Linked DNA regions of Homo sapiens: regions 1 and 3 are each linked to region 2. The links come from fine-mapping of genetic effects on gene expression. A gene starts in region 2. Each other region holds a variant in brackets. All regions are shown on one strand. Distances are between the middles of the regions. Region 1 overlaps EMC1 (ER membrane protein complex subunit 1). Region 2 holds the start of AKR7A2 (aldo-keto reductase family 7 member A2). Region 3 holds the start of AKR7A3 (aldo-keto reductase family 7 member A3).

Region 1 (8,000 bases), 70 kb after region 2:
ACTCATTTTCTGTAATAAGGAGGCATTACTTTTATATCCAGATAAAACAACAGTATTTTATTTACTTATTTATTTGAGACAGAGGCCCACTCTGTCGCCCAGGATGGAGTTCAGTGACACGATCTTGGATCACTGCAACCTCTGCTTCCTGAGTTCAAGCGATTCTTTTGCCTCAGCCTCCCGAGTAGTTGGGATGACAGGCACGTGCCACCACGCCCAGCTAATTTTTGCATTTTTAGTAGAGATGGGTTCTCACCAAGTTGGCCAGCTGGTCTCGAACTCCTGATCTTAAATGATCCACCCACCTTGGCCTCCCAAAGTGCTGGGATTATAGGCGTGAGCCACTGCGCCTGGCCTGTTTATTTTTTTGAGACAGAGTCTTGTCAGGTTGGAGTGCAATGGTGTGATCTCGGCTCACTGCAGCCTCGACCTCCTGGGCTCAAGCGATCCTAATCGAGAAAATTATTAGCCTCACATGGTAGGCTACCAAGTACAAAGGAGGTGCTTGCTCTGTGCTGTTAAGAAGTGCTGTGATCTCAGTCGGGCGTGGTGACTCACGCCTGTAATCCCAACACTTTGGAAGGCCGAGGCGGGTGGGTCAGTTGAGGTCAGGAGTTCGAGACCAGCCTGGCCAACATGGTGAAACCCCATGTCTACTAAAAATACAAAAAAATTAGCCGGGCGTGGTGGCAGGTGCCTGTAATCCCAGCTACTCGGGAGGCTGAGATAGGAGAATCGCTTGAACCTGGGAGGTGGAGGTTGCAGTGAGCTGAGATTGCACCATTGCACTCCAGCCTGGGGGACAAGAGTGAGACTTCGTCTCAAAAAAAAAAAAAAGAAAGGTAAGGTGCCCTTTTGGGTGTCACTTATCTGAAGGTAAATATGTGCTTCCATTTAGAAGGAAGAGTTAGTATTATCTATTAGGAGCTAATTTTCTTCTCTTACTCTCTTTGCATCTGACTACATTGAATGGAAATCTTGCTTTTGGTCAGAGCTCTTCACTAACAAACACTTCTTTTTTTTGAGATGGAGTTTTGCTCTTGTTGCCCAGGCTGAAGTGCAATGGTGCGATCTCAGCTCACTGCAACCTCCGCCTCCCGGGTTCCAGCAATTCTCCTGCCTCAGCCTCCCGAGTAGCTGGGATTACAGGCATGCGCCACCATGCCCAGCTAATTTTGTATTTTTCATAGAGACAGACGGGGTTTCTCCATGTTGATCAGGTTGGTCTCGAACTCCTGACCTCAGGTGATCTGCCTGCCTCGGCCTCCCAAAGTGTTGGGATTACAGGTGTGAGCCACTGCGCCCAGCTAACAAACACGTCTTATGTGTCCTAAAATGAATGTGATGGTGATAGCCCTGTGATTTTTTTTCCGGAGCATTTTGTGGAATGGTGATTTTAGCTCCTTATGGTCCCCTGTACTCTTTTTTTCTCAGGAGACAGCAATATGTTGGGAAGGTCAAGTTTGCCTCCTTGGAATTTTCCCCTGGATCCAAGAAGTTGGTTGTAGCCACAGAGAAGAATGTGATTGCAGCATTAAATTCCCGAACTGGGGAGATCTGTGAGTGAACTGAGAACTGTGTCTACTGGCTGCCTCAGGGATGAAAGACTTACCATTGCCAACTCTGCCTGGCTGATTCCTGAATAAGGAACATGTTGGCCAAAAGATGCCTCTCCTAGTGGATTCTGATACTTTTTTTTTTTCAGTCTTACCATCTTTGAATATTTGTATGTTCCTATAACTGACCTTTGCGGTTTGTTCTCTCAGCTTGAATCCTGAGTGTCCTTAAATAAGATATTGCTGCAAGCCCAGGCGGGAGGATCACTTGAGCTCAGGAGTTCGAGACCAGCCTGGGGATCACAGTGAGGCCCCATGTCTAAAATTAAAAAAATCAGGCATGGTGGCGTGTGCCTAGATTCCCAGCTACTTGGGAGACTGAGGTGGGAGGATTGCTTGAGCCCAGCAGGTTGAGGCTGCAGTGAGCTGTGATCATGCCAGTTCACTCCAGCCTGGGCAATAGAGCAACACCTTGTCTCAAAAAAAAAGATGCTGCTGCAAAAAACACATTATTCTACTTTGCAGTAAACTCTCAGATACCCTCACTTAATTACCTACACTGGCCGGATGTTTTTAGGCACTAAAATAAGGGAAATAGAATTTATGATCACTATTTTTCTTGTGAATTGGATGGATTTTATTAATCTTATTGTTGTTTGTTTATATGTTTGATGGGGTGGTAGTGGGGCCTGGACAGTAGTGGCCCCTCTTAACCCCTTCTACCCTCATTACCCCGTGAATGGGACTGGATCACTGCCAGTTAGCTATACTCCTTCACTCCCTCGAGATAAAATTGGACATTGCTGTGCAAATGAAGAGCTCTTCATTTATTTCTTAGTCTTCTGGGTTGCCACCTTTTGTTCATAGTAATGTCTAACTTTCATGTCTCTCAGTGTGGCGCCATGTTGACAAGGGCACGGCAGAAGGGGCTGTGGATGCCATGCTGCTGCACGGACAGGGTAAGCAGAGTCCTCCCGTGTCTCCATTGTGCGGCCAGCTCCCTGTCCCATTCCTTGGCTCCTTGATCTGTACAGGGTCTGGTAGGGAAAGGAGACTGGGGACTCCTGACAGTGAAGGACAGGTACCTGTTTAACATGTATTTGCATCCAGAAATCAGAGGTGAGGCCACTGCTCACAGTGGGACCCTAGGAAGCGACAGAGCAAGTGGGAAATGACTTCACCACGATCTTTTCTTTTCCAGATGTGATCACTGTGTCCAATGGAGGCCGAATCATGCGTTCCTGGGAGACTAACATCGGGGGCCTGAACTGGGAGATAACCCTGGACAGTGGCAGGTAGGGGAGAAACTGGATTTTATCTTGACTGAGTTAAAGGCTTCACCGGAACACAGATCTGCATAGACAGCAACTCTGGGCTTTTGGCTTTTTCCCAGGGACCACTGAAGAGCCAGCCATTGACATTGAGTACCCATTGTGGATATGCTTGCTCAGCCAACATGTATTGAGCGCCTGTTAGATGCAGAGTTTCTAGGTGCAATGTTTGCGCTTGTGCTTGAATGCTGTTCCTAATTTCACTGTGATTCGTGAGTTTTGCAATGTTCCAGATATAAGAACATAATATAAAACTTCCACTGTTTAGTTTTGTTTAAAGAACAGCCTGACCTATTGTTAACATCTTTGCTAAAGTTGTTTATTTTTATTTATTGAGTTTTTTGAGACATAGTTTCACTCTGTCACCCAGGCTAGAGTGCAGTGGTGTGATCTTGGCTCACTGCAACCTTCACCTCCCAGGTTCAAGCAGTTCTCGTGCCTCAGCCTCTCCAGTAGCTGGGATTATAGGCATGTGAACCACGCCTGGCTAATTTTTGTATTATTAGTAGAGACGGGGTTTCACCATGTTGGCCAGGCTGGTCTCGAACTCCTGACCCCGTGATCCTCCCACCTCAGCCTCTCAAAGTGTTGGGATTACAGGCATGAGCCACCGGGCCTGGCCCCTAAAGTTGTTCAAATGATAGGGTCATTTGTATTAGCTTATACATTTTCTGATAGTAATTCATTTGGTAAACACGTGCTGAGCCCCAGGCGATGAGAACACATGGGACTGTGAGACAGTTGCTGTCATTGAGGATTCCGCTGTCCATTGGGAGGCAGGCAGGTAGCACAGTAATGACAGCACTGTCTCATGGATATGTGGCAGAGGGTAGGTCCAGTTGCTGTGAAGTCCCAGGGGAAGGAGGGAACAGCCCTTAGGAGATACAGATGGTTTCAGGGAAGCAAGTAGTGTGGCCAAATGGTTGCAAGTGCAGAATCTCAAGTTGACTAACAAGAGGCAGAGCCAGGGTTAGGATCCAGCTGTGTTTGACCCCAAAGCCTGTTTTCTTACCCACTAAGCAACAGTGGGTACTGTTCTGGACTGTCTCTCCCAGCCTGAGGCTCTGCAGGTGTGGGCTGCTCTCAACCTGTACTTGTGTTCAGTTTCCAGGCACTTGGGCTGGTTGGCCTGCAGGAGTCTGTAAGGTACATCGCAGTCCTGAAGAAGACTACACTTGCCCTCCATCACCTCTCCAGTGGGCACCTCAAGTGGGTGGAACATCTCCCAGAAAGGTAAGGCTGCCTGCTCACAGGCAATAGCTGCCTCGTTCTACTCTCTAGGAGCTCCTCTTTCTCCTCGAGGGACCCGAAGCATTTGCTTTAACCCAGGCCTGTCTCTTGTTGGTGTTCCATGGAGTGTGTTGCACTCAGAATATCTTGAAGGCTGTGAGTATGGGTGAAACTCCGGAGTATGCCTGGAGTTTCCTTTGCACTGAGGAGAACACTCTCAAACTGGGGTGCTAGGGCGAGCCATGCTACGGGAGCCACTCACTCGCTCATGGTTATGGTACTTTGTGCCTTCTGACTTCTAGTTCAAGTTCTAGTTCTAGTTCTAGTTCTGACTGAGCCTTTCGTTCATATTAAGAGTTAGAACAACTCAAGAAGACCCAGGGTAGGCTGAGTGAGGTGTGAAATGGTTTCTCGAGGTCCTGCTGGTAGAAAGCATCGAAATTGGGAAGGAACAAGAGAGAAGGAACAAGATAAAAGGATCTACTTAGACACCCTGTGGCCATTTTCAAAGTTTAGAGCAGGACTCAAAACTTCAAATTCTGGCCTGGCATGGTGTCTCACGCCTGTAATCCCTGCACTTTGGGAGCCTGAGGTGGGTAGATCACTTGAGCTCAGGAGTTCAAGACCAGCCTGGGCAACCCCATCTCTACAAAAAGTACAAAAAAT[T/C]AGCCAGGCATGGTGGTGCGTGCTTGTGATCCCAGCTACTTGGGAGGCTGAGGTGGGAGGATCACCTGAGCCTCGGGAGGTAGAGGCTGCAGTGAGCCGTGATCGCACCACTGCACTGCAGCCTGGGTGACAGAGTGAGACGCTGTCTAAAAAAAAACACAACAAAGAAAATGCTATGAGGCGGGTTATGAAATATCCATGAGCAACACTGGCTGGATGGGAGCTGCAGTGCTCCTGGCCTGCCTGGAGGGGGCAGCCTTACCCACCTGATTGGTGCTCTGTATTTAGGCCTAGTGTTGCCACATCTTCTAACCGTAGGAAAATTTAGAAATCTGATTGTGAAGTATAATATCTTCTAAATGTTGACAACTAATTCAAATTAAGAACAACAACAACAAAAGCCCCCAAACTGTGTGAGCCAAACAAAACCTATTTGGGAATTACTAGTTTGTGACATCTGGCTGAGGCCTGGCAGCCCCTGAGGATAATCCTGTCCTGGGTTGAAAGCTGACGCTGCGGTTTCTTCTTCCCTCTCTTAGTGACAGCATCCACTACCAGATGGTGTATTCTTACGGCTCTGGGGTGGTGTGGGCCCTCGGAGTTGTTCCCTTCAGCCATGTGAACATTGTCAAGTTTAATGTGGAAGATGGAGAGATTGTTCAGCAGGTACAGGAGGGTGACAGGAGCCTGTGAATAAGGTGGGGTTGGGGGAGACTTGATAGATTTCTTTGTACTGGGGAACAGGGAACTTGGCTGGGCAGATGCAAAAGCTACTTATGCTCCCTCATTCTGGTCACTTGCCAGCTGCCTTCCCATTAGGCCTCTATTTAAAGTACTCATATTTGCATGTGTTATCTTCTGGGGTGGCTAAAAAATTACATAGATCTAGTCTCTGCCTGTAAGTATCTTACAGTGCTGTGAAATCACAGTAGGACACCACATATGGCAAATATAGTAAAGAAGTGCTGATTCTGAAGTGCCAGGTATTTAAAATTATCGGATATATTTTTCCAGTGACCAGAAAGAAAATCCTGATATTTTTTCCAACTTTGAAGGCTCTCAGGAGGTTGGAGGGTGGGGTTTCAGGGGACAGGAAGAACTCCTATACAACCAACCATGAAGAACCTTTGAGCTTAGGACCCCCAGTGGGATGCTGGCAGCAATATTGCTGTTGGGCTGAGAGGGAAATGTAAAAATCTTTCACGAGCTTCCTGTTAACGATGACTTTTCTGTAGGTTAGGGTTTCAACTCCGTGGCTGCAGCACCTGTCTGGAGCCTGTGGTGTGGTGGATGAGGCTGTCCTGGTGTGTCCTGACCCGAGCTCACGTTCCCTCCAAACTTTGGCTCTGGAGACGGAATGGGAGTTGAGACAGATCCCACTGCAGGTGAGAGGCTGCCACTGCTTCTTCTGGCCTGAGGCATTTCCTGCGGGGAGTAGAAAGTTTGGCATGATTCCCCTGGAGGGTCTTTCTCCTAGACTCTTCCTGAGCAGTGGAAGCCATTCAGGCCTCTGGCTGAACTGGTGTAAGAGGAAATCAGTCACTTTCCTCTTTGGGGAACTTGAACTGGAGCATTTGGAGCCACCTGCCATGGCCCAGTTACTTCCCCCGGCAAAGTAGGGCAGAGGTTGTGAGCCTGGGATGGGTCAGGGAGTCGTCAGCTGTTAGCCATAATCCTCCTCCTTCTTGCCTTCCAGTCTCTCGACTTAGAATTTGGAAGTGGATTCCAACCCCGGGTCCTGCCTACCCAGCCCAACCCAGTGGACGCTTCCCGGGCCCAGTTCTTCCTGCACTTGTCCCCAAGCCACTATGCTCTGCTGCAGTACCATTATGGAACGCTGAGTTTGCTTAAAAACTTCCCACAGGTAACTGCAGGCAACATGGTTTGCTAGGATTCAGGAGATCTCTCCAAGACATGGATGCTAGAAGGCAGTGCTTTTGAATCTGGAAACGTTTGCTCTTAGGCCCAAGATTGATGACACCTTCCCGTAAGTGGTTTGAGAGGGGGTAGGTAGCCTTATCATAGAAATGGTGTATTTCCTCCTGAGTATTACAAAGGATCTTTAGAGCAAAACTAGTGCCTTCCTTAGTCCAAAGGAAATATGGGGACATAAATGAGAGCTTCCCCATAGATAGTAAGAACAAGCAGCATGGGATTTAAGATTGACCTGTGCCTGCGTTGGAGGTAGGGAGAGTTCTGTTTTCAGCTGTAGATGCAACTGAGGCCTCCCTCTGCTCTTAAATGCCTGACCATTCTGCTCCAAAGTGGGGAGCACTTTCAACTCTAAGGCCAAGGGCCTTCCCTGGAGAGGTGACCCTCTGTAAGGCAGCTGGCTAGTACTGGTCCCATTTAGGAGCTGATGCCTTGCTTTTCCCCCAGACTGCCCTAGTGAGCTTTGCCACCACTGGGGAGAAGACGGTGGCTGCAGTCATGGCCTGTCGGAATGAAGTGGTGAGTATTGAGAACAACAGTCAGCACTTGGGATTTTCCTTCCTGGTCTCCACTAGGAACCCTGAAAATCAGAAGTCTGGGCACATTGACCTGGTCAGTTTGAACCCAGCGGGCAGGAGGCTGTTGAGAAGTGAGGTCTTGCCTCAACTATAGAGCTTTCTGCACACCCCATTTCTCCCCAGGAACGAGACCCTAATGTGATGACCTTACTTTCATATGGGGCTATTAAGGGTTGAATAGGCTTTGTGGGCAGGGGTGAGAAATGAGCTTTGTCTTCTCTCAAGTGCTAAGAAGACAAAAACAAAAGCTTCATTTCAGTGACTGGGAAGTGACCCTTTGGCTGAATTTTCTCCTGTCCTTCTCTTTCTCATAGCAGAAAAGTAGCAGTTCTGAAGATGGGTCAATGGGGAGCTTTTCGGAGAAGTCTAGTTCAAAGGTATGGTGTGGCACTGGGCAGTATGCCAGACCTAGAGACGCAGGAGGCCACCAAAGAGAGTTGGGGGAAGAGCTTTGGTTAGGAGCAGGTCCTAGAGTTCCCAGCTTCAAATGAGGTTTCCTAAGTACTGTAAATTAAATGATGTTTCTCTTAATCTCATTTTACCGGGAGATTAGGAGGTAGAATCCCTAGAGTCTGTTTCTAGCCACTTTCTCCTCTGGGCCTCAGCGTCCCCATTTCTTTTGGGATCCTGGCTGGCACAGTTGAGTAGTACTCTGTGCAGTTACCCTGTAGCAGAGGCATGAGCCCCTGGCTGGAGGCATAGGTTCC
Region 2 (8,235 bases):
ACCCTGTCTTAAAAGAAAACACACACACACACACACACACACACACACACACACACACAAACCATAAAGAGTTGCCCCACACAGATGAGGCAAGTGGAGAAGAGGAGCAAGGGATCCCCGGGGTTGCATGAATGACAAGGACTCAAGTTTGGGACGATGCAGCCTGTATTCTCCCAGGAGCTCACAGAGTGTGGGGGGGATGCCTAACAGCAGGGAGTCCACAGCCACCTCCCCACCGTCACAATGACAAAGCCAGAATATGGCTGATCGCAGGGGTGGGCAGGGCAGGCCTCTCCCGCTACCCGGGCACCCTGGACAGTGAGTAGAGCAGTCATTGCCTGCGTGACACCTTAGAGGAGGGAGGGAAAGTGAGGCTCGGCTGGGCCATCTCCATCAGTGATCATCACCACAGCTCGGACCGGTGAGCCAAGCATCCTGCATGCACTCATGTTGCATCTTCCCAGCAACTATGAAGTGGGGACCACTGATATCCACAAGGAGCCTGAGCCAGAGTGCGGAAGTGATGTGCCAGCGCCACCCAGCCAGGAAACTACAGAGTCAAACCCAAGACTCAGACCTACACCCCTGCTCATAGCCACCTGCCACACCACCCGCCTCAGGTCCATCTGTCACCAGCGAAGCAGAAGACTTCTGTGGCTCGAGAGAGAGAGAGGGAGAGAGGGAGGGAGAGAGAGAGACAGAGAAGCCTCTGTGGTCTGGCATGACTGCACAGCCAGAAAGTGGGCTTCCTCTTTTTTCCCTGTGCTCAGAGGGGATTTCCTCATCCAGGTGGGGGCTGTCTCTAGCTGCCTTCATTCCCACTTGTGTCAGGAGGCCTGGGCTCCCCAGCTAGTCCCTGGCTGGCCCCACGGAACTGCTGAGGACACAGAGACCAGGGAGCACCGGGAGGGAAAGGAAGTGAGTCAGCACCTCCTCTCAGGAAGCCGTAGACCCTCAGCCCTAATGTGACTCGCTGTGGGCAGAGACCCTGGACCTAAAGGTAAGGGTGCCCCAGGTCACTGTCAGCCCAGCTCACTGGACTACCTCCAGGGCCTGGCACAGGCAGGGAGGCTGAAAGCCTCTTCCCTGTGTCTTCGTGGCCCACCTGGGGGACCATCAGCACAGATGATGTTGGAAGCCTTCACCTGATGCTCCATCTCCGGCCCCTGAAAGGCCACTCCAAATTAACATATAGTCCAGGTGTGGCCGGGCGCAGTGGTTCACACCTGTAATCCCAGCACTTTGGGAGGCCAAGGCAGTTGGATCACTTGAGCTCAGGAGCTGGAGAACAGCCTGGCCAACATGGTGAAACACCATCTCTATCAAAAATACAAAAATTAGCCAGGCGTGGTGGGTGCGTGCCTGTAATCCCAGCTACTCAGGAGGCTGAGGCAGGAGAATCACTTGAACCCAGGAGGCAGAGGTTGCAGTGAGCTGAGATCGCGCCATTGCACTCCAACTGGGTGACAGAGCAAGACTCTCAAAAACAAAACAAAACACAAACAAACAAAAAAAAAACCATATAGTCCAGGTGAGAACTACACGTTTGCAAGGCCAAAGGCATTTCAAATCAAGTCCTCATGTTCTCAGCCACCACTGCCAACTGGGGTGCACCCCCACACCCCCTTGCAGAGTCTGAACACAAGGCTGCAGCTCATCCACTGCCATCCTCACCACTCCCCAGCAAGGTTGGGTATACTGTGCTCATTTGACAGGTGAGGCTGAGCAGCCCTGGAAGTGAATTAACCTGCCTGAGCCTGTCCATAAAATGGGGCTAACGACACTCACTCCTTGGGGCAGCTGCCCTGACTAAATGCACATAAAGCTCTCAGCCCTGTGCCTGACAACACATGGCAGCGACTGTTTTCAGGATGAGAGTCCAGCATCTCAACCACCTTGGGGACTCTCCCTCTCATTTCCCCCTTTCCCCAGGTTAGGGAGGAAATGAAATGGACACATCTCAGCATGTGTGTGTTGGGGGGTTGTCTCGAGGAAGGTACCTTGGTTTATGGCCCCTGCGGCCTCTCTCTCACTTCCCCCTTTCCCTAGGTTAAGGAGGAAATGAAATGGATGCACCCCAGTATGCGTGCGTGTTGGGGAGTTGTCTTGAGGAAGGTACCTTGGTTTATGGATCCAGGATACTGGGTGGGTGTCCCCCTGACCTTGGACAGGACCCATGTGCAATGTGGAGCTCGGGACACTCTGAGACACACCTGATCCCTGAACAGAAAGGCCTGGCTCTGAGGGCCATCCTGCGTAGTTCCTGTCACCTAGAAGCCAGGCATGGGCCCACATCCTGTTCAAACAGCTCTGAGCAAATGGATGTCCAAGGTTGCAATGGAGCTTGACCTCACCTGCAGGGATGGGAAGGACCCCAGAAGCGGTACCCTGGAATCACCCTTGGAGGGTGCATGTTCAAAATTTGGAGTCAGTGCACCTGGGCTGGGGCTTAGAGATTCTGGGTTTAAGAAGCCCTCCAGCGATTCTGCTCCATCTAGTGCACTTTGAGAAAGGTTGGGCTGGAGATGACATCTCCTGCCACACCCAAACTCCTCTCCCTGATCCCAAGCTGAGTCAGGGTGCTTCGGGCACATGATCACAGCCAATCATGTGTCCACCTTTGTCTACAGGATGAAGTCCAAATTACCTGAGGCTAGGCCTCAAGTTACTCCAAGAACTGCCCTCCCAACCTTATCTCCTGCCTCCTGACCCACGTCTTCAGTCATTTCAGGTCTCCAGGCTTCTGCACGTGCCATCTCTTCCCCTAGAAGTGTCCTGCTCCCCTTCAAGGGCCTGGTCATGAGATAAGAAGACTCACTTCTAAATTGCCCTTTCAAAGATGCCCCATGAGAGCTGGCTGGACAGGACCTTCCACCTCCTCCTCTCCCCTTGTCCACACACCTGAAGAACGCTACCACCGTCCTCTGCGACCACTGTCTTTGAAACGTACTCTCCCCACCCTGGGTTGTGCATTTCTTATTCTCCAGGTGTAAACACACCTAGAGGTTCAGCAAATGTTGAGAGACAGTGAGAGAAAGAGAGAGGTAGAGAGAAGGACAGAGTGAAGAAGAGAGGAAACGGGTGAGAAAGGAGAAAGGGTGGAAGAGAGAGAAGAGGAAGGAAAGGAGAAAGGAAGGGGAGAAAGCTGTGAGCTCGAACAGCCCAGGGTTGAGGAGAAAAGCACTCTGGAACAGACCTGCCCGATGCCTACCAGTCTGGAACTCAAGTGATTGAGCTTCGTAGTTCTCATCTGAAAAGTAGGGGAATAATGCAATACCCACCACCTAGGCTGACTGCAGAGTTAAATGAGACAATCCAGGCCAAGCGATTACAAGGGTGCCTGGCACTGGCACTCAACACCAACAGCCCAAAATGACTATTATTTGTTCTCATTGTAGCCCCTCCAGCGTCCGGGCACACAGGCGCCTTCAGTAAGCGTTGATTAGACATGACCTGTGACCCAGGCCCGGGACCCCTCACACTTCCAGACTCAGACTCTCCATTTACACGTTTGGAAACCTACCCTAAGCACGGCGTGGGAGGAGGCAGTGTAGGCCCTCGGTCCCTGCAGACCTGGGGAGATTGTGGAGGGAGGAGCGTCCCAGCTCGGGGCTACCACCCACTCCAGGCCTCGGCGTCCTCGGCCACAGCTCCCTCCTGGTGACTCAGCCCGGCGCGGGCCGCCTGTTTGGAGGGATAATGATAGGACAGCTGCTGGGGCCAGCGCCGCGAGGGCCCCTCGCCCGGCCGGCCCGGGAAAAACGAAGCCATCAGATGCCAAGGGGCCGGTCGGCCGGGGCAGGGCAACTCCTGGCCAGGCCAGCTCGAGAGGCCGCGCTGGTCGCCTTTGAGGTGGGGGGCCACTGGCTGCGGATTCCCGAGGGCCACCCAGTCCCGGCCCGGAGCCTCGTCCCACGATATCGCGCCACAAGGAGGGCGCAGGAGCCGGGACAGTCCAGCGGCCGGAGGAGAGGGCTGGAAGGATGTGGCAGGGAAGCCCAGGAGCCCCGACCCCCAGCCGTGAAGTTTGCCACCTGCCCCCGGTCCGGCTCACCACGTCCAGATCCGCCGCCAGGGCCCAGCTTCTGGGTCAAGGCCCGCCGGGTCAGCTGACCGCGCGCCACCGCCCCCGCGGGAACCGCAGGCCCCGCCCCCACGCCGCGCGCTGGGCTGACCGGGCCTGGAGGCGCCGCTGGGGCCGCGCCTGTTGTCCCCGCCCCCAACTGCCTCCGCGCTCCTCCCCGGCATGGGCGGGGCCCCCGGCTCCCAACGCGCAGGCGCCGCTGCTATGCTGAGTGCCGCGTCTCGCGTAGTCTCCCGCGCCGCCGTCCACTGCGCGCTTCGCTCTCCGCCGCCCGAGGCCCGCGCGCTCGCCATGTCCCGGCCACCGCCACCGCGGGTCGCCTCGGTGCTGGGCACCATGGAGATGGGGCGCCGCATGGACGCGCCCGCCAGCGCCGCGGCCGTGCGCGCCTTTCTGGAGCGCGGCCACACCGAACTGGACACGGCCTTCATGTACAGCGACGGCCAGTCCGAGACCATCCTGGGCGGCCTGGGGCTCGGGCTGGGCGGTGGCGACTGCAGAGGTAACAGTAGCTGCAGATCCTCCCCATGCATCGTGTAGAGCTGAGCCTGTCCCCAGCCGTGCACCACCCCGCTCGGGCCCGGCCGCGGGCAGCACCGACGGATTCGTCCCTCGCTCCCCACCCCAGGTCCACCCCGCAGCTCTGGGAACCCCGGGACAACTAGACAGTGCTTTGCCCTGACTCCTTTCCCCCACTCTCCTTCCCTTGGGAGTTGCAGCGCGAGAGTCTCCCCCCAGCCTGGTCTGACCCATCGCTTCCCACCTCCATTGATGCCCCCGCCTCCAAACCTGCCAGGTGCCCACAACCGGTCCCCACCCAGGCTCTCCCCCTTTTCTCTACCCCTTCGTTACCATCATCACGCATGCACACCCTGGGCACCCTTTTCTCATCCTGGCCTTTTCTTAACCACTAGAATTTGACCTGTGCAGCTGGCAGTACCTCTGCCTCTCTCAGGGAGAACTGTGGCGATGCCGTAAGGCTGGCTGGGAGAGTAGGAGTGTTAGGGAGTGCGGACGGGTCAGGGTGTAGGGACTTTCTATCCACTCTATGCCAGGCTTTGACTTGGGGCCATAGGAGGGAAAGTGATTCCAGCCCTCCACAGGGAGTTCAGAGTCTAATGAGGAAGATTGAAGTAATGATTGCTGGAGAGCCCAGAAGAGAGAGTACTTTAGGGAGCTGCAGGCCGGGGAGAGGCACTAGGGAAGGCTCAGCAAATGCTGGATGGAGCTCAGCCTTAAAGGCTCAATGGTAGGTTGGAGGAGAACAAGAGAAAGGAACATTAGAGTCTGTGCAAAGACTTGGTTTGGAAATGCAATGTGCGTGATGTGTGAAAGGAAGGCCACTGGGCAGGTGGGGCTTGAGTGGAGGATGGAGGGGACTGTCCCTCGTGAGCCTGGTGCCCTTGATAGCCCTTGGGAGGGTGCCTGGCACTCAGTGAGGGCCCAGGGAACGTGGGCTGTTACCCTTACCATGCTTCACCCACTGGACTATCCTGAGGCTGTTGCTCCCCACCCCTGAGGAGAGGTTCTCTCTGGGTCCTCCTGAGTCATAGCGCTTGGGGGGTCGGGGGGAAAAGAGGGCAAATGTGAATCTCAGGCCCACGCTGTTTCTAGTTCACCTGGCTGCATGTTGTTGTTTTTGTTATTATTATTATTTGAGACGGAATCTTGCTCTGTCACCCAGGGTGGAGTGCAATGGCACGATCTCAGCTCACTGCAACCTCTGCCTCAGCCTCCCAAGTAACTGGGATTACAGGTGCACACGGCCACGCCCAGCTAATTTTTGTATTTTTAGTAGAGATGGGGTTTCACCATATTGGCCAGGCTGGTCTTCAACTCCTGACCTCAAGTGATCTGCCCACCTCAGCCTCCCAAAGTGCTGGGATTATAGGTGTAAGCCACCACGCCCGGCCACGTTACATACTATTAATAATGAAGATTTTGTTCCTGAGTTGGTTTTTCTTCTCTAACCCTTCCCCGCTTCCGTCTTTGGGGCCAGGAGCTCACTGAACCAAAGTCCTCAGGCCAGGCCTGAGGCACAGTTCATGCCAAGAATGCCTGGGGCGTTGTGGGGAAATGGAGAAAATCTGGATGAGAAACTGTGGAACTTGTTCTGTCCCATATCCCAACTGATCTCGTGACACCCTTCTGAGCTACTGAGCTGACTTTGCTAAGTATGAAAAGTGCAGAATCCATCCCCCAACCAATCCAGACAGCTGGGGTTCTTTTTTTTTGTTTTGTTTTTTGTTTTTTGACACAGAGTCTCACTCTGTCGCCCAGGCTGGAGTGCAGTAGCACAATCTGGACTCACTGCAACCTCTGCCTCCCAGGTTCAAGTGATTCTCCTGCCTCAGCCTCCTAAGTAGCTGGGGTTACAGGCACGTGCCACCACGCCTGGCTAATTTTTGTATTTTTAGTAGAGACAGAGTTTCACCATGTTGGCCAAGGCTGGTCTCGAACTCCTGACCTCAGGTGATCCACCCACTTCAGCCTCCGAAAGTGCTGGGATTACAGGCGTGAGCTACCTTTCCTGGCCCAGCTGGGGTTCTTTTTTAATTTTTATTTTTGTAGAGGGAGGGTCTTGCTACATTGTCCAGGATTATCTCAAACTCTTGGGCTCAAGTAATTCTCCCTACTCAGCCTCCCAAAGTACTCCCAAACTAGGTTTACAGACTTGAGCCACTACATCTGGACCAACAGCTGGGGTTCTTTATAGGGGAAAGAATAGTGCAGAATTAACTCATTTCCAAGCTGCTCGGATGCAGAACACTGTTGTCATAGCGATGTGTCCCTACAGTGTTTGGATATATGCTCATGCTTCTGTGAGTCAGGAAGGGGAGGGGAGAATTATAATTACATTCTGCTCAGTTTGCCTTCTAAGCTCTCAAGTTGATCTCTACCACTGGGCCACATTTATGTGGCTGCTTCGCTTTCCTAAACTCTTCCAGGCCTGCCCCCTTGACTTCTTTCTCTATACTGCAGCCAAGTGTGAACACAGGTGACCGGTTCACACCCTGACAAAATCTGGAATGATCAAGTTCAGATTCAGTGGGATGGTATTTAAGAACTTTTGGGATGAGGTCTGTCCCTGTCTCTTGTCCTACGTCCCACTGCTCCTTGCTCTAGAATTTATGCTCTTATAACTTAGACTTGAAGGTTTGGAGCCTCACATAGTGTTTTTTTGCCTCTTTGACTTTGCATGGGTTCCCATGCTCTGGAGTGTACTTCCTGCTCTTCCTTGTTGGCTGGGACTCTGGGAGTGATCCCCTAGAGAAAGCCTTCCCTGGAGTCTCCAAGTTGGCTTCATGCATCTCATCTGGGCTCCTTGGCATCGTGTGCCTTTCCCTCCTGTGCTTACCATATTGTACCATCATCCTCTAGGGCTCCAGGAGGGCAGAGATCCATTGTGTTCAGTTCATCTCTGCATACTCAGTCTCTAGTGCAAGGCCTGGCACAGCCAGCAGGTTGGTGACTAATGATAGTTATTCTAATAGGTGAACATTGAGAACTCACATATATGACATTATTTAATCCCCAGGACCTCCCAATGAGGACAGTTTGATTATTATCACCCCATTTTACAGATCATACAATTGAGGCCAAGAGAATATTAGTAATTTAGCCAGGGTTACATGGTTAGCAAATGGCTCTAATAGGTCACTTAACCATTCCATTCTCTCTCCAAGTGAAAATTGCCACCAAGGCCAACCCTTGGGATGGAAAATCACTAAAGCCTGACAGTGTCCGGTCCCAGCTGGAGACGTCATTGAAGAGGCTGCAGTGTCCCCAAGTGGACCTCTTCTACCTACACGCACCTGACCACGGCACCCCGGTGGAAGAGACGCTGCATGCCTGCCAGCGGCTGCACCAGGAGGTGAGGGGGCCCTCCGAGCTCCAAAGGTGGGCTCCTGCTCCTTTCTTTATCCTGATCCTACTCATGAGAGCAGAGGCACCAGGGCAGTCCCAGGGTGGGGCAGGGAATAGCCCCATTCCCTGGGGCCCCACCCTGGCCTCCCCTTCCTGGTCTGGGCTACACTGCGTTCTGACTGGAGCCTCACCCATGCAGGGCAAGTTCGTGGAGCTTGGCCTCTCCAACTATGCTAGCTGGGAAGTGGCCGAGATCTGTACCCTCTGCAAGAGCAATGGCTGGA
Region 3 (8,245 bases), 20 kb after region 2:
GCGCCAGCCAGGTAGAGAAGCCATTTGTGGCCAGGTGCGGTGGCACACGCCTATAATCCCAACACTTTGGGAGGCTGAGGCGGGCAGATCACCTGAGGTCAGAAGTTCAAGACCAGCCTGGCCAACACGTTGAAATGGTGTCTCTACTAAAAATACAAAAATTAGCTGGGTGTAGTGGCAGGCGTCTGTAATCCCAGCTACTCAGGAGGCTGAGGCAGGAGAATCTGTTGAACTTGGGAGGTGGAGGTTGCAGTGAGCCGAGATCACACCACTGCACTCCAGCCTGGGAAATAGGAGTGAACCTCCATCTCAAAAAAAAAAAAAAAAAAAAAAAAAAAAAAATCCATTTGCAAAATAGATTAGGGTGGGGCGGGGAGCTTCTTCCTGTACTATGTAAACATCGCACCTGTTTCAACCAATCTTTGAGCCCTATGTAAATCAGACACTGCCTCCTCATGCCTGTCCTTGTGCATGCTGCTGCAGGCTGGAAGACCCACTCAGGTGCCCCTCTCTCTGCAGGAGAGAGAGCTATTCTCTTTTTCTTTTGCCTATTAAACCTCTGCTCTTAACCTCACTTCACATGTGTTCGTGTCCTTGACTTCCTTGGCATGACGCAGTGAACCTTGGGTATTACCCCAGATGAACGACACTGCTTCATTCCTTGGCATGAGGCAATGATCCTTGGGTCTTACCCCAGATGAACGACACTGCTTCATTTTGGGGCCCCAGGTGGGATCAAGGTATCATCATCAGAACAGTGAGGACAGGAGTGGACCTCAACCATGTCCTTTCATTTCAAGGTTCTTGGCCTCCATTTTAAAATCAAATCAAATACTGGGCCCCCTTCAGCTATTTAAAAATGATTAGTGTGGCTGGCAGCCTTACAAGACTTGGGGGACAGGCTTGCTGGGGAGAACATTCTGAAGCAGTGGGAATTTTTACAGTTCAAGGAAGTAATCCTGTTAGGCAAGATCAGGAAATACCGTAGTAACTGAGGTAGAGCTCAAGGCAATGCCATTTTTGTGATTTTCTAGGAACAGTGGGTCTTCCCCTCCTCTCCCCATAGTGAGGTCTCTCTCTGCCCTTGGTCTGGAGAGCACATGGCATTTAAAGGTCAACGGCCCTACCCAGTGGCATAGGAATCCTCTCCATGAGGCACATTGTCAGCCCTTTGCCAAAACACTCTGGCTTCCCAATTCTCCTCCCTTTTTGCACCCCTCTGCTGGACACCAGGCTTTATGCTACTTCCATAAATGGGAAAACTCTGTCTTCAACAATAAGGAGGAAAATGTCCTCCAAAACCAAATTTTAGTCTCAATACTGTCCCATCAGCAGGAAAATAGCCATTTGGTTCCTATGTTTTTTTTAAGGCACCTATTCTGCTTGTAATTAAAATAGTACTTAAATAGTAAGGGTAATTTAAGTCCGGAAGTTAACTGGAACCATTCTCTAAGGGTACTTTAGCACGAGTCATAATAGCAGGATATAGAGCTCAAACCAGCACACTTCCTCCATTATGGAGGGAAATACAACAGTTGCCTAAATGCAACTGTTACATAGTCTCTCCCAAGATCCATTTTTCAGGGAGCCACACAGGTCACACAAGTCTTGGAAGTCAAAAGGAAATCATAAGTGCAGGACTAGAGTCACATGGGTAAGCATGACTAACCCCAATCACTTAGTTCCTCTGGTTCCATGGCTGGGGGTCACACCTGCAACCATGGGAGGCATGTTTAACAAGATGCTGGGACCCAGGAACCAAGGAGGGAAAACAGTAGGGGTGGCGCCCTCACTGTCTTCCCCTTCCCCTCCTCTGGAGTGCGTTCTGAAGCACTGGGACTCCTTTGACTCTGAGATTTGGAAGAAAAAACAGCTCATTTTCTTTTGCACAAGAGCATGGCCTTCTTACTAGACCTTTGCAAGCATTGCACAATGGACTCAGCTCTTTCAGCAGTCATATCAGACAGGCCCAAAGGGAATGATTCCCCAAAACTAGAGAAACAAACTCCCAGGAACCCCTCAAATGAAACTTCCAGATGCCCTGGCCCTTCCTCCCTCCCTTTCACATTGTCAGCTTCTCCAATTCTACCACCCAAACCCCCAGACTTTTCTATGGTATTTTTCCTTCCTTCATTCATGATTTAAAATGGCTCCTATCTCTTCTTCTATAATGTTCCTCCAAACTGGGAGAAGTTAATTTCCTCAAACCTTAAAATGCTTGGCTTAGGGTTGAGCTCGGGGAACAGAACCCAGAAGCCTGACATGCTGTCAAAAGGGTAAAAATTTTTATTTTTATTTTTATTTATTTATTTTTTTTGAGACAGAGTCTCGCTCTGTTGTCCAGGCTGGAATGCAGTGGTGCAATCTCAACTCACTGCAGCCTCTGCCTCCCTGGTTCAAGTGATTCTCCTGCCTCAGCCTCCTGAGTAGCTGGGACTACAGGCACGTGCCACCACACCCAGCTTGCTCCATCAACACTGAATATTAGTGATTGAGTTGTTGCCACTACTGGCACTCAGAAAATTATCCAGCTGTGGTGGTGTGCACCTGTAGTCCCAGCTACTCCAGAGGCTGAAGTAGGAGGATCTCTTGAGCTCAGGAGGAGGTCAAGGCTGCAGTGAGCCAAGACCATGCCACTGCACTACAGCCTGGGTGACAGAGCAAGACCCTGTCCCCCACCCCCCCCCCCAAAAAAAAACAAACAACAACAACAAAGAAATATATTGAAATAACTGGTATCTTCAATACAATGTTGAATAAGAGTGGACATCATTGGTTCCCAATCTTAGGGCAAAACTTTCTGATTTCATCATTAAGTATATTAGCTGTAGGTGTTTTGTGTATGCCCTTTAAAAATTATTTTATTTTTTGTAGAGAAGGGTCTTGCTATGTTGCCCACACTGGTCTTGAACTCCTAGGCTCAAGCAATCCGCCCATCTTGTCCTCCCAAAGTCTGGGATTATAGGCATGAGCTACTGCTCCTGGCCTATGGATGCCCTTTATCAGTTTCAGGAATTCCCTTCTATTCCTAATTGGCTGAGAGGTTTATTTTCCTTTCATGAATAGGTATTAAATTTTGTCAAATGCTTTTTCTGCATCTATTGAGATGGTGATATGGGTTTTGTCTTATAGCCTGTTAGTATAGTAAATTATATTGATTGATTTTAAAATATTAAGCCAACCTTGTATTCCTGGGATGAAACTAACTTGGTCATGGTGCATTATTGTTTGTATTTACTACTGTATTCATTTTGCTAAATTTTAAAAGGATTTTTGAAAAAAATAAAGAGGATTTTGTGTCTAGATCCATGAAGGATATGTGTGTAGTTTCTTTTCTTGTAACATCTTTGTGTCATTTGGTATCTGGTAATGCTAGCTTCAAGATGAGTTGGTAAGTGACCTCTCCTCTTCTATATACTAGAAACATTTGTCCAGAATTGATGTTGTTTCTTCCTTAAGTGTCCAATGAAGCCATGTAGACCTGGAGTTTTCTTTGTGGAAATATTTTTTTTTATCAAGAATTCAATATCTGGGCTAGACGAGATGGCTCACACTTGTAATTCCAGCACTTTGGGAGGGTGAGGCAGGAAGAATACTTGAACCCAGGAGTTTGAAACCAGCCTGAGCAATATAGCGAGACCCTGTCTCTACAAAAATATTTTTACAAAATTAGCCAGGTGTATTGAGGTGCACCTGTAGTCCCAGCTACTTGGGAGGCTTGGGCAGAAGGATCGCTTGAGCCCAGGACGTTGAGGCTGCAGTGAGCTATGATTGCACCATTGAACTCAGAAGACAAAGCAAGACCCTGTCTTAAGAAAAAAAAAAAATTCAGGTTGTTGTTTTTTTTATTTTTTTAGACGGGGCCTGGCTCTGTCGCCCAGGCTGGAGTGCAGTGGTATGATCTTGGCTCACTGGAACCTCTGCCTCCTGGGTTCAAACGTTTCTCCTTGCCTCAGCCTTCCAAGTAACTGATTATAGGCACACACCACCACACCCAGCTAATTTTTGGATTTTTAGTGGAGATGGGGTCTCAGCATGTTGACCAGGCTGGTCTCCAATTCCTGACCTCAAGTGATCTGCCTGCCTCGGCCTCCCAAAGTGCTGGGATTACAGGCATGAGCCACTGCGCCCGGCTGTCTCATTTTTCCTTACTCATTTTCCAAACACATTCCTTACTCATTTTCCAAACATAAACTTTGGTAGTTTGTGTTTTTCAAGGAAATTGTCCATTTCATCTAACTTACTAAATGTATTCACATAAAGGTTTTAATAATCTACCCTATTGTCATTTAAAATGTCATTTAATGTCATTTAATGACATTTAAATATCACTTAAAATGATAAATTTGTATAATTTGTAGTGGTGTCTCTTCTGCTCTTTCTGGTGTGGTTAATCTGTGTATTCTCTCTTTTATTCCTGATCAGTCTAGCCAGAGGTTTATCAACTTTAGCGATGTGTTTATAGAACTACTTCTGGTTTTACTGACTTTTGCTGATGTTTTTGTTTTATATTTCATTTATTTTGGCTTTTTTTTTTCTTTGAGATGGAGTCTTGCTCTGTTTCCCAGGCTGGCGTGCAGAGGAGTGATCTTGGCTCACTGCAGCTTCTGCCTCCCGGGTTCAAACGATTCTCCCACATCAGCCTATTTTGGCTATTATTTTTATTATTTCCTTTCTTCTGCTAATTTTGGTTTTACTTGACTCTTCCTTTTGTGGTTTCTTAAAGTACAAGCCTCGGCCGGTGCAGTGGCTCACACCTGTAATCCCAGCACTTTGGGAGGCTGAGG[C/T]GAGAGGATCCCTTGAAGCCAGGAGTTCAAGACCAGCCTGGCAAACATGGTGAGACCCCTTCTCTACTAAAAATACAAAAATTAGCCGGGCATGGTGGTGCATGCCTGTAATTCCAACTACTCAGGAAACTGGGACATGAGAATTGATTGAACCCAGGAGGCTGAGGTTGCAGGGAGCTGAGATTGCACCACTGCTCTCCAGCCTGTGTGACAGAGTGAGACTGTGTCTCAAAAAAAAAAAAAAAAAAAAGTAAATGCTTACATTATTGATCTGAAATATTTCTTCTTTTGTAATATGTCAAAGTGGTGCTATAAATTTCCCTCATAGCACTACTGTGGCTGCATCTCAGAAAATTTGATATGTCCTGTTTTTACTTTCATTCAGTTCAAAATATGATCTAATTTTCCTTGTGATTACATATTTGACCCATGGGTTATTTAATTTCTAAATATGTGGGGATTTTCCAGATATCATTCCATTATTATTTTCTATTTTTCCTTTTTCTTCTATTTGTTAACTTATTTACTTATTTTCAGTTCCCTCTCAGGCTCTAAATTCTGTTATTCTTTTCTTTTCTTTTCTTTTTTTCTTTCTTTCTTTTTTTTTTTTTTTTGAGGTAGAGTCTTTCTCTGTCACCCAGGCTGGAGTGCAGTGGTGCGATCTTGGCTCACTGCAACCTCCGCCTCCCAGGTTTAAGCAATTCTCCTGCCTCAGCCTCCTGAGTAGCTGGGATTACAGGCACACACCACAATGCTCGGCTAATTTTTTTGTATTTTTAGTAGAGATGGGGTTTCACCATATTGGACAGGCTGGTCTTGAACTTCTGACCTCAAGTGATCTGCCCACCTTGGCCTCCCAAAGTGCTGGGATTAAAGGTGTGAGCCACCGCACCCAGCCTGTGTTATTATTTTCTAGTTTAATTCCATCGTGTTCAGAGATGTACTTTGTATGATTGGAATCCTTTCAAATTTATTTATTTATTTATTTATTTATTTTTAATATGGAGTCTCACTCTGTTGCCCAAGCTAGAGTGCAATGGCCTGATCTCGGCTTACTGCACTCTCCACCAACCAGGTTTAAGTGATTCTCCTGCCTCAGCCTCCTGAGTAGCTGAGATTACAGGGGCACGCCACCACGCCTAGCTAATTTTTGTATTTTTAGTGGAGACGGGGTTTCACTGTGTTGGCCAGGCTGGTCTCAAACTCCTGACCTCAGTTAATCCACATGCCTTGGCCTCCCAAAGTGCTGGGATTACAGGCGTGAACCACCGCTCCCAGCCTCTTTTACATTTATTAAGACTTGTTTTATGCCTCCAAATATGGTATATCTTGGTGGATGGGCACTTGAAAAGAATGCATATCCTGCTGTTGTTGGATATTCTATTCATGTTGTTTATGTGGAATTGGTTCATAGCATTGAGTCTTGTATACCTTTACGGAGTTTCCGTAAATTATGACTGATAACTGTTCTACAACTATTGAGAATGGTGTGTTGAAATCTCCAATTATAATTTTGTATTTATCTACTTGTTCTTTAGTTCCATTATTGTTTTTCATGTATTTTGATGATCTATGCTTAGGTGCATATATATTTAGAATTATATCTTCTTTATTAATTGACCTCTTTGTCATTATGGTATGTCCCTCTTTGTCTTTGGTAGTTGTTGTTGTTGTTGCTGTTTTGAGACAGGGTCTCAATCTGCAGCTTCGACCTCCCAGGCGTAGATGATTCTCCCACCTCTGCCTCCCAAGTAACTGGGACCACAGGTGCATGCTACCACAATTTGATAATTTTTAAAATTTTGTTGTAGCGATAAGATCTCCCTGTGTTGCCCAGGCTAGTCTCAAACTCCTGGACTTAAGCAATCCTCCCTTCTCAGGCTCCCAAAGTGCTAACATTACAGGTGTGGGCTAGTATGTCACCCACTGTGTGGGCCAGTATTCTTTGTTTTGCAATCTACTTTGTCTGATATTCACTTAGCCATTCCAACTTCTTAAAATTTAGTTTTGTCAGTGTATGTCTTTTCCCATCTTTTTGCTCTTAAACTATCTCTGCTTTTATATTTGAATAGCTTTCTGGTATTTACCATATAGTTTGGTTTTGCTTTTTTATCCATTCTAACAATCACTGCCTTTTACTTGTGAGCATTTACATCATTTATATTTATGTAATTATTGATATGATTGGGTTTAAATCAATTTTGCTATTGGTTTTTCATTTGTTCCATCTGTCTATTGGTCTTTTTTTTTCTTTTGTATTTGGAGACAGATTTGCCCTCTGTCACCCAGGGTGGAGTGCAGTAGAGCTATCACAGCTCACTGCCGCTGGGCACTGGTCCATTTTTCTATCTTTTTTTTTTTCTTTTGAGACAGGGCCTCCCTATGTTGCCCAGGCTGGGTTCAAACTCCTGGGCTCAAGTGATCCTCCTGCCTTGATCTCTCAAAGTGTTGGCATTACAGGCGTTAAGTCACCAGAGCCAGTCAGTTTTTTTTCACTTAGGTACAGAATTCAATGCCAACAGTTCTTTTCTTTCAACACTTTAACCATGTCACTCCATGGGGACGCTGTCTTGAGCCTTTGGTAAGCCTCATTCTCCAGGACCACACGGCAGGCGCGACAGCCCTAGGTCCACCCCACCCCGTAAGCGCTCCCTCCGGGAGGAGACAGAAACCCAGGACAGCTCCGGGGCAAGGCCGAGGAAGGAGGGACGACGGGGCAGGGAGGCCCGAAGAGTCCCCGCCTTTTGGGATAGTCGCCACCCTTGGACCCCCTCACCCTTGGGGACGTTGAGGAGTGTTAAAATCTCCAAGACGCGAGTCACCGGTACGAAGCCACAGCCATTTCGCTGCTTGCTCGGTGCAAGTGCAGAAGGTCCTAGTAGCCGAGCGTGGAGTCGAGCTCGTGGGCGGCGTCGGGCACCTTCGGCCGCGCCCTCAGCTGCACCCGCCGGTGGGCGGGGCCCGAGCCCGTCTCTAAAGCCACGAGGCCGCCCGCTCCGAGCCTGGTGCTTCCGACCGCTGCGCGCGGCTCCTGGGCTGTCACAGTCTCCCGTTGCCGCCGTCATGTCCCGGCAGCTGTCGCGGGCCCGGCCAGCCACGGTGCTGGGCGCCATGGAGATGGGGCGCCGCATGGACGCGCCCACCAGCGCCGCAGTCACGCGCGCCTTCCTGGAGCGCGGCCACACCGAGATAGACACGGCCTTCGTGTACAGCGAGGGCCAGTCCGAGACCATCCTTGGCGGCCTGGGGCTCCGGCTGGGCGGCAGCGACTGCAGAGGTAACAGTGGCCCCTGATCCTCCCCCTGCACGGTGCAGAGCTGAGCCTGTCCACAGCCGTGTACCGCCCCGCTCTCCCTGGCCCCGGGGCAGCACCCAAAGTTTTGTCCCCCCCACCGCCCCCACCCCTGTTCACCTCGCAGCCTTGGGAACACCAGGCTCCTTAGGCACGTCTAGCTCCG

The links.
Region 1: its variant is fine-mapped to the expression of AKR7A2 in monocytes after Pam3CSK4 (Quach 2016, PIP 0.94).
Region 3: its variant is fine-mapped to the expression of AKR7A2 in spleen (GTEx, PIP above 0.99). The same link has a PIP of 0.9 or more in sun-exposed skin and tibial nerve.

The regions. Positions count from the first base shown.
Region 1 is chr1:19,238,465-19,246,464 of GRCh38, reverse strand. It overlaps EMC1 (ER membrane protein complex subunit 1), which reads left to right. Exons shown (of 23, transcript NM_015047.3): 2 at 1,435-1,559; 3 at 2,450-2,515; 4 at 2,758-2,851; 5 at 3,992-4,120; 6 at 5,323-5,449; 7 at 6,019-6,168; 8 at 6,480-6,647; 9 at 7,163-7,234; 10 at 7,608-7,670. EMC1-AS1 (EMC1 antisense RNA 1) reads right to left here. Exons shown (of 2, transcript NR_135114.1): 2 at 5,761-6,208. Among named protein-coding and RNA genes, the nearest start is that of EMC1, 9.1 kb to the left of the region's middle. The variant T/C (reference allele first, on the strand shown) is at 4,784.
Region 2 is chr1:19,308,178-19,316,412 of GRCh38, reverse strand. It overlaps AKR7A2 (aldo-keto reductase family 7 member A2), which reads left to right and starts at 4,269. Exons shown (of 7, transcript NM_003689.4): 1 at 4,269-4,586; 2 at 7,771-7,958; 3 at 8,151-8,235. The coding sequence starts at 4,289. SLC66A1 (solute carrier family 66 member 1) reads right to left here and starts at 4,087. Exons shown (of 8, transcript NM_001040125.2): 1 at 3,524-4,087. RefSeq lists enhancers at 384-553, 465-964, 4,179-4,678 and silencers at 3,778-3,867, 3,948-4,587.
Region 3 is chr1:19,288,315-19,296,559 of GRCh38, reverse strand. It overlaps AKR7A3 (aldo-keto reductase family 7 member A3), which reads left to right and starts at 7,790. Exons shown (of 7, transcript NM_012067.3): 1 at 7,790-8,064. The coding sequence starts at 7,851. LOC124903867 (a long non-coding RNA gene) reads right to left here. Exons shown (of 3, transcript XR_007065521.1): 1 at 8,200-8,245. It overlaps LOC100506730 (a long non-coding RNA gene), which reads left to right and starts at 824. Exons shown (of 1, transcript NR_037847.1): 1 at 824-3,313. RefSeq lists enhancers at 6,913-7,734, 7,735-8,245. The variant C/T (reference allele first, on the strand shown) is at 4,788.